2 separate regions of the Homo sapiens genome follow, and region 1 is linked to region 2. Evidence: fine-mapped expression QTL. A gene starts in region 2. The other region holds a variant in brackets. All regions are shown on one strand. Distances are from middle to middle. Region 1 overlaps PREP (prolyl endopeptidase). Region 2 holds the start of PREP (prolyl endopeptidase).

What was found. PIP is the estimated chance that this variant, and not a neighbour inherited with it, causes the effect.
Region 1: its variant is the best candidate, but not a certain one, in a credible set for the expression of PREP in whole blood (INTERVAL, PIP 0.67).

Annotation. Positions count from the first base shown.
Region 1 is chr6:105,311,646-105,315,900 of GRCh38, reverse strand. All of the region lies in intron 10 of PREP (prolyl endopeptidase), which reads left to right. Among named protein-coding and RNA genes, the nearest start is that of PREP-AS1, 35 kb to the right of the region's middle. The variant C/T (reference allele first, on the strand shown) is at 2,440.
Region 2 is chr6:105,400,667-105,404,921 of GRCh38, reverse strand. PREP (prolyl endopeptidase) reads left to right here and starts at 1,840. Exons shown (of 15, transcript NM_002726.5): 1 at 1,840-2,075. The coding sequence starts at 2,031. RefSeq lists a silencer at 1,563-2,132.

The DNA of each region.
Region 1 (4,255 bases), 89 kb after region 2:
TCAGTTCTGTGAAGACTAAAAGACATGAGAAAGCTGCAGAACATTAGGGAGCTAGCAGAGGTTGGTTCATGAAGTTTAAGGAACGAAGCCATCTGCACAACATAAAAGTTCAAGGTGAAGCAGCAAGTGCTGATGTAGAAGCTGCAGCAAGTTATCCTGAAGATCTAGCTAAAATAATTGATGAAGGTGGCTGTACTAAAACATTTTCAATATAGGCAGAACAGCCTTCTGTTGGAAGAAGATGTCATCTAGGACTTTCATAGCTAAAGAGAAGTCTGCCTGGCTTCAAAGTTCCAAAGTTTCAAAGTTCCAAAGTTCCAAAGGACAGGTTGATTCTATTAGGGGCTAATGCAGCTGGTGATTTTAAGTTGAAGCTAGTGCACATTTACCATTCTTAAAATCCTAGGGCCCTTAAGAATTGTGCTAAATTAGCTGGGCACAGTGACTCATGCCTGTCATCCCAATGCTTTAGGAGACCAAGGCAGTAGGAACTCTCGGGCCAGGAGCTCAAGATGAGCCTGGCAATGTGGTGCAATCCCATACAAAATTTATCTACAAAAAATTTAAAAATTAGCCAAGCATGGTGGCATGTGCCTGTAGTTCTAGCTTCTCAAGAGGCTGAGACAGGAGGATCACTTGAGCTCAGGGGTTCAAGGCTTCAGTGAGCCATGATTGCACCAGTGCACTCCAGCCTGGGCGACAGAGCAAGACTTTGTCTCTTCAACAGAAACGAAAAAACAAACAAAAAAAGAATTGTGCTAAATTCACTCTGCGTGTGCTCTAGAAATGGCCTGGATGACAGCACATCTGCTTACAGTGGTTTACTGAATCTGTTAAGCACACTGTTGAGACCTACTGCTTAGAACAATTCCTTTCCAAATATTTACTGCTCATTGACAATGCACCTAGTCACCCAAGAGCTCTGATGGAGCTGTACAAAGAGATGAATGTTGTGTTTATACCTGCTAACACAATATCCATTCTGCAGCCCATGGATGAAGGAGTAATTTTGACTACATTTGTAAGGCTGTAGTTGCCTTACAAATGGATGGATCTGGGCAGAGTAAATTGAAACCCTTCTGGACAGGATTCACCATTCTAGATGCCATGAGGAACATTTATGATTCATGGGAGGAGGTCAAAATATCAACATTAACATGAGTTTGGAAGAGGTTGATTCCACCCTTCAGGAATGACTTTGAGGGATTCAGGACCTCTATGGGGGAAGTCACTGCAGATGTGGAAATAGCAAGAGATCTAGAATTAGAAGTAGAGTCTGAAGATGTGACTGAATTGCTGCAATCTAATGACCAAATTTGAATGGATGAGGAGTTGCCTTCTTGTGAATGAGCAAAGAAATTGGTTTCTTGAGATGGAATCTATTCCTGCTGGAGATGCTGTGAACATTGTTGAAATGACAACAAAGAATTTAGAATATTCCATAAACTTTGTTGATAAATCAGTGGCAGGGCTTGAGAGGCTTCACACCAGTTTTGAAAGAAATTCTACTGTGAGCAAAATGCTATCAAACAGCATTGCATGTTACAGAAGTCTTTCATGAAAGGAGGAGTCAACCAGTGGGCAAACTTCATTGTTGTTTTAAGAAATTGCCACAGCAACCCCATCCTTCAGCAACCACCATCCCAATCATCAGCAGTCATCAACATTGAGGCAAGATACCCCTCCACCAGAAAAAAGATTACAACTCACTGAAGACCCAGATGATCATTAGCATTTTATAGCAATAAAGTGTTTTTAAATTAAGGTAGGTACTTTTTTTTAAGACATAATGCTATTGCTTTGTACACTAGTGTAAACAGCTTTTATATGTACTGGGAAACCAGAAGTGGGTGTGACTTTCTTCTTTTTTGATACTTGCTCTATTATAGTGGCCTGGACCTGAGCTACAGTATCTATGAGGTGTGCCTGTATAGACACACACTTAGATTTTTATTTAAGTCTTAGTGTTGGTCACCATGTGGCAGCTTGAACCCCCACTTGAAATATATTCAGAAATAAAATAAAACTTTATTTACTCTTTTGCTTTTGTCATCTTATCTCTGGTTGACTTCTCTCAGGATCATATTCAGGGATTGGCATTCATGCCAACGCTGGCACCAGCCACCTTCTAACTCAAATTCAGAAGAATATTCACAGATCTGTTTTGGAAATTGTAGCCCAAGACCTCTGCCCCTTGTGCGGTGAGTCTGGATGGCCACTTCTGTACTCATAAAAGCAGGTGATTTTTCTACCTGCAGGGTTACATCTGTCCCAGTGTCTCTCACCCTATTTCTGCCTCCCTAATAGGTGATGGTAGACAATTAATAGGATTAGCAGGCCATCTAGAAACACAACTGTGATCATTGTTTAGATTTGCTCTGCCTAGAGAAGGCTTGGCAGAAAAGAGTTGGGGGTAATCTTTTCCTGCTTTTCTTAAAC[C/T]CCCGGGGCAACATTTTAGTTTGCCAGCAAAACTCAACTGTTTTTGGCTTTCTGCCATACTGTTTTAGAACAAAAGGAGAGGAGAGACAATAGGAGCTTCGTGTGGGCTGTCCACCTGCTACACAGATTTCTTCCCTCCCCTCCCCTCCACTTGCTTTGCCTGGAGTTACACTGATGGTCGACGGGTGATGGGTGAGTAAAAATAGACCCAGTGCTGGGGATATTCCATTATCTCCCTAAAGGAAAAACCATTACTGGCATTACTGTCATTGGTCTGTGAAGGAGGGAGGAAAAAATTTCCATCTCCACAAGTGTAGTCTTTTGATTTGGATTAAGTGTACCTTGACCTGGTTTTAGGGAGGTAGACTGGATTATTCTCTGTTCACCCTCTGTGCTGACTCAATGTAAGATATAGACAGAAATGTTGTCATAGTTATAAAAATGGTAGTAAAATATTGTGAAGTGGAAGGCATTGTGAGGGTACCTCATAGAAACACATGCAAGTTCCTTGTCATTGTCTGTGTTGGGTACATGCTCCTCCACACAACTTTTGATGCTCTTCTTCATACAGCCGCGCCCCAGTGCCGCCCCGTAGCCCCGGACCACCATACTCAGACTCACCTCTGCCTCGTTTCTCCATGACCCATCCTGGTTCTGCTCATTTTTCTTTACTATTTTCTGAAATTCCACACATCTTTCAATATTCATCCAAACGCCAACTGTCCTGTAGAAGCTTGTCTTCTTGCTCCTGCCCCTGGGAGCTCAGTGTAAAGCAGAAGACGGGGAAAGAGGACATTCAGCTGTTAGTTGAAAATACAGCATGGATGTGTGCTCATGTTCTTCGTACATAAACTCATTGCTTCAAAGTTGAATTGCCCTGAGAAGTGGTGCTGGCTTCTCTGATCAGGCTGTCACAATTAAACAGTTGAGTACTCTGAGGTAGTTAGTTCTGGGTCTTCATGCAGAAATTGATATAAAACACTGTGGCTTTGTTAAGACACTAGAGAAAGCTTCATCATTTATGTTGGTTCATGTCTCAAAAGAAAAATTTAAACCATCTTCTCAGGCTGAATTGACAAATGCAGCCCATTTTAATTCTGTCTTTAAGAGCATCTACCAGTTAGTTCTGAATCAAGTAATAGATGACTCTTTGTTTCCTCCTAGCCTCTATGTGTGTACATTTGTATACATATGCCTGTATAGAAGTAGCCATAAACATTAATATATGCATACAAGCATGTCTTTAAACAGCATGCTTTTTTGATCTCAGTTCAGGTAGAGGGTGATTGTGAAATTGGCTTTCAAATAGAAAATCATTTAGCCTGCAAGTAAAAAATCATTATATATGTGCTACCTACATCTGGAGCCTCAAGTTTTCTGTTTTGCCTAGGATATATCTAATTCAATTCCAGAATTTAATATGTATATAGCTAATTTAAGTATTTGGAAGAGACTTAGAAAGAGTATAATCTGAACTGTGGATGGCATGTTGTTTAAGAATCTGCAGATTTGATTGTGTTTGGAAATGCTTTGACACCATTGCTCAGAATCCTTAGAAATAAGAGCAACGAAGGAGTGTTCTGGGATTCCTAAAGCTCACCTGTTTGGATTTACAATTCATTTATGTCTATGTATGGCTGCCTTTCCTTGCCTTCATCAGAAATTCTCTGTCAGCATTGATGGGTGGAGGTGGGATGGGGAAGAACCCCTTTCATTCATCCCGTCAGTTTGTTTTTATTGAGAATTTGCCATGTGCCAAGCATTGTTGTAAACACTGGGAATGTAGCAGCGACGTGAAGAGATGTTGTCTTTGCCC
Region 2 (4,255 bases):
CCACTCCATCTCACTCCAGATGCAGACAACCTACTGCTGGGAGCCTCTTGCACTGTCTGTGCCACTACAAACCTTTACCTCTCAGGGCCCAGAGGAACTGGGCACCAGAACGGCTGACTGAAAGGGAAGAGAGGATGATACCTAGGTTTGATTTGTCCTTTGGGTACCACAATTCCCACATTTTCTTTAGGTCCTGCTAAATTGAAGTTTTCCCTGCAAATGGGTGCCCTGTAGACTCTAGAGTATCTCTACTTATTTATGAGTAGGAAGGCCGTCAGAGTGGTTAAGAATGAGCATTGGTATTGGAGAGACCTAGGTTGGAATCCTGGCTCTACTTTTTCACTTTTTGTGAAGTCCTGGGCAAAAGTCAGCCCGTTTTCCTTAACTATAAAATAGGGACATTAGTTCTAGATAGTTTCCTGATACACTGAAAAAAACACTCCATAAGCATTAATATTATCATTAGGGGGTCTGCTGGGTCAAGTGCTCCTGGGTTGCTCTTTAAAAAATCCCTCACAGTGGCAGAAGGAGGAGACAATGCCTGCCAGTCCCTGCGTCAGGTGACAGCCAGGGAAGGCACGAGGTGGGAACTGGAATTGGGACTTCTGGGCTGTAGTGGGCTATGCCCCCGTGTTTGCACAAAGTTTGTTATCAATAGCGTGAGTTCTCCCAGAATTGAGGATTCTCAGATTGCCCCAGGAGGGGGTATCTGGGATCAGATGCAGAAAATGATTATGACACATCACTATGAACAGAAATGGTGAACTAAGGGTGAGGCATGGAATTGGGACCATATCACAAAAGAGACGGAGGACACAAGTTTATAATAGTTACCATATCCACTTAGATTCCGGAGGTGAAGGACTTTCTGGTCACACCTATTCTTTCTTCCAGGACTTTTTGGAAGCCAGGGATAGAAAACACACTGGGCACACACTATACCCCTGATGGCTGGGGCTATAAAGTCTCTTCTGGGTGGTCCAGGAAGCAAGACCAGAACACATACCGCTGCTGGCCCGAGGATGATGACATGTAACTATTAAATTTTCATGGGTTTGAGGTCAAGTATCTTGTCTATTATCTTTTCTTCCCATAAACAGTAGGTGCTCAATAAACAAGCATGACAGCAGGAGAGGAAATGAGGAAAAGGCAGGATAAATAAAATACCCCTGATGAGTTCCAGGCCTCTTAATCTTGGTTCTTTCTCAATCGGTAAATATCAAATAAGGGCTCAACCGTAGTCCTGCCAACACCTCCAAAGCATCTCCATAGTCCGGATGCTAAACCACCCAGTGTCCACCAGGGGTCCTGGGATGAAGGGAGACGTGTTTCTTTCACGGTCATCATGATCGATTACTTCTTCCCTTCAAGTCCAGAGTCGCAGGCAGTGGACATAAGGCCACCTCCAGCCCTCTGCTTCCAAGGCTGGGGAGAGGCAAGGTCTCCCTTCGCCGCCGTAACCAGCCCGGGAACAGGAAGGCTGGGGAAGGTGGGGGACTCCATCAGCAAGGAAACCCTGGGGCTTCACTCTCCTACAGGCGGTCCTGCGAGCGCGGCCAAAGAGAGGCAGGGCGCTAGGGAAGGCGCGGGGACCCGGCCTCGGTGGAAGGACTTGTCCCCGGCGCAGAGGACGGGCGGGCGGCCGGGCGTGGGCGAGCGCGTAGCCGGCGTGCTCCTCCGTGCGCCCGGGCGGCGCGGGCGCGGCCGGCGATCCTGCAGAGGGAGCTGTGCGCCGGCCTTAGCGCACGCTCGGTGCCGCCCGCTCCCTCTTGCCGCCGCCGCCGCCGCTGGGCCCGCCCGCCGGGGAGGGGCTCCCGGCCTCGCAGACAGCGGCTTCCTGCTTTCTGCACGTCCTCGCCGCCGCGCCGCCAGTCCGTTTGTGCTAGCTCTGGCCGTGAGCCGGCCGCCCGCTGCCGCCGGCCGCCCCGCAGCTGCCTGCGCCCCAGCCGCGCCTCGCGGCCAGCCCGGCTAGCTCAGGTCCGCTCCCGGAGCCCGCGCCCCTCCACGCTGCCCCCTGCCTGTCCCCGGCCATGCTGTCCCTTCAGTACCCCGACGTGTACCGCGACGAGACCGCCGTAAGTATCTCTGCCTCCGCCCAGAGGGCTCCCGGGCAAAGGTGCCCAGCCTGCCTGACCCGTGGCACCCGCAGCTCCTCTTCCTGTAGGCCTTCGACCCCCGCGTCCCTCCCCTCCCCCTCGGCCTTTGTTTGGGAGAATTGGGCCGGGGGCGCGGGGCTCCTCTGCAGCGCTGGGGTCCCGCGGGCGGTCACTCTGCTAGTGCTGGCGGCGGAGCCTGTGGGCAGCGCCGCCCGGCCGCTTCCTAGAATCAATGGGGTCAAGGGCAGACGCCCGGGTAGAATGGGTGTCTTCAGGGAGTGGGAAGACAGACGGTGTCACTGCTTTTTTGACTGGCGAAGCCTCTTGCTTAAATATGGTGGTAGGAGAAAGTGTCCGCTGGGGTGTGTGTGTGTGTTTGTGTGTGTGTGTGTGTGTGTGTGTGTGTGATGTCACATTTAAAAACGAAAACAAACTTTTAAAACTTACACTTTAAAGTCCTTAGAGTTGAAGCATATTCGTTCGATTTTAAAAGGTGTGTTGAGCGCCTACCCTGTCCCAGGTCGGATGAGGCGCACTGGGCCCTGGGGATGCCAGAGACCCGGACAGAAATGGGGAAGGCGGAGCAGTGACCCCATAGTGTGGCCGTGCTGATCCATGTTTTCTTAAACAAGAAAAGGAGTTGAGAGAGGGTGAGAGGAGGTCTTAGAAGGGAGAGGGGTTGACCTTTTTCAGAATGAGTAAGTTTTGTCTAGTGGCGGAGTTGACCACCATTTGCCTAAGCTGCAGATGAACTCAAGGTAACTGTTGAGATCCAGTAGGCGGAATTCTGGGCAGACACCTTTTTTGTGTAAACGTGAATTTGACGACTTAGGAACTGGATTGCATCCACATGTTGTGGCCGTGATTCTCTTACTAATAGCTACATTTCTCAGATTACTTAAAATATAATCAGAATAAGTATGTATTTGTGTGATACAGTTTTAATGTTTTTCTGTTTACTTTCCCAATTTATGCCAGAAAGTGTTTACTTTAAAGCACGTGCTACATTGGGGTAAAGGGTGCTGACGCTTCGGAGTAAAGGACATACTGTTTTAAATTAAGACTTCCAAGTGACACTGATGCATTCATTCATGGTTTCTTTGACCAGTGGCCATCTGGTAACCATGTTTTCTCAGTCTGCTCAGCTGCTTGCTTATTAAATTTACCCTAACAGCTCAAGAAGCTCTATTCCTGTGGTTTAAAGGTTGTTTCCTTTGAATATGGGAGTAAAGTGATCCTGCTGGAATGGAGAAAGAGGCTGGACTAAATGAAAAGACCAGAGCGCTAGTTCTGGTTCTGTCATTCACTAGTTAGGTGACTTTTAGCAGCTCTTTTACCTGTTATGGGCCTTTTTTCTCATATGAGAAATATTTGGACTGACCATAGGGCTTACTTGCTTCTGCAGTAGGAATGTTGTCATTCATTCATTCATTCATGTGACAGTCTAGCTCTGCAGTGTTCCAGACTAGTAATGGGAAGCCAGGTGACTCTCTTGGTTCTGGTTCTTGAGGATCAGAATATAAAGAATTACCCATTCTGTGGTTTGATAAGTGCAGTTTTAAGTTTGTTTTTAGAGTTACTTGTTAGTTTTTCACCACTGTGGGTGCCTAAATCCTACAGTTTGTTTATTTATGTTTGATATTTCATGAAAGGTTTAAGTGAGGATTTTATGAAGACGTCTAAAAGATTATAAACAACTCGGAAGGGTATACTGTGGATTTTAATACACTCCAGTTCCTTCTCATTAAGCAACTCATGCTAACTCTAAGCCTCGTGGCCAAGGGAATGTAGCTCTGGCCCAGTCTGGATCTTGTTGTGTGGCTCCTTGATAGCTTACGGTGGAGTATCTTTTTTTTTGCATTAAGGTTTTGGTTACTAAGCCCTAGGCTTGACTTAGGTATTTGCTTAAATGGTAGCCTTTGATTTCTAGGATGGGTTTGTTTCTCCCCAGCATCAGCTGGGCATTGCGGTAGCTCTCTGTCTCTTTCACTTGAGCACCTTCAGCCATATGCTCAGTACTCTCCTGCTGAAAGCTTTGGAGCGTTGAGACCATTTTGGTGGAGTTCTGCCTTTTTGGGCAGAAATTTGGAAGCCATGACACTTCTTGTGCAATACCATCGACCATTGCTTAAGAGAGTTGCTATCAGGAAATTCAGGCC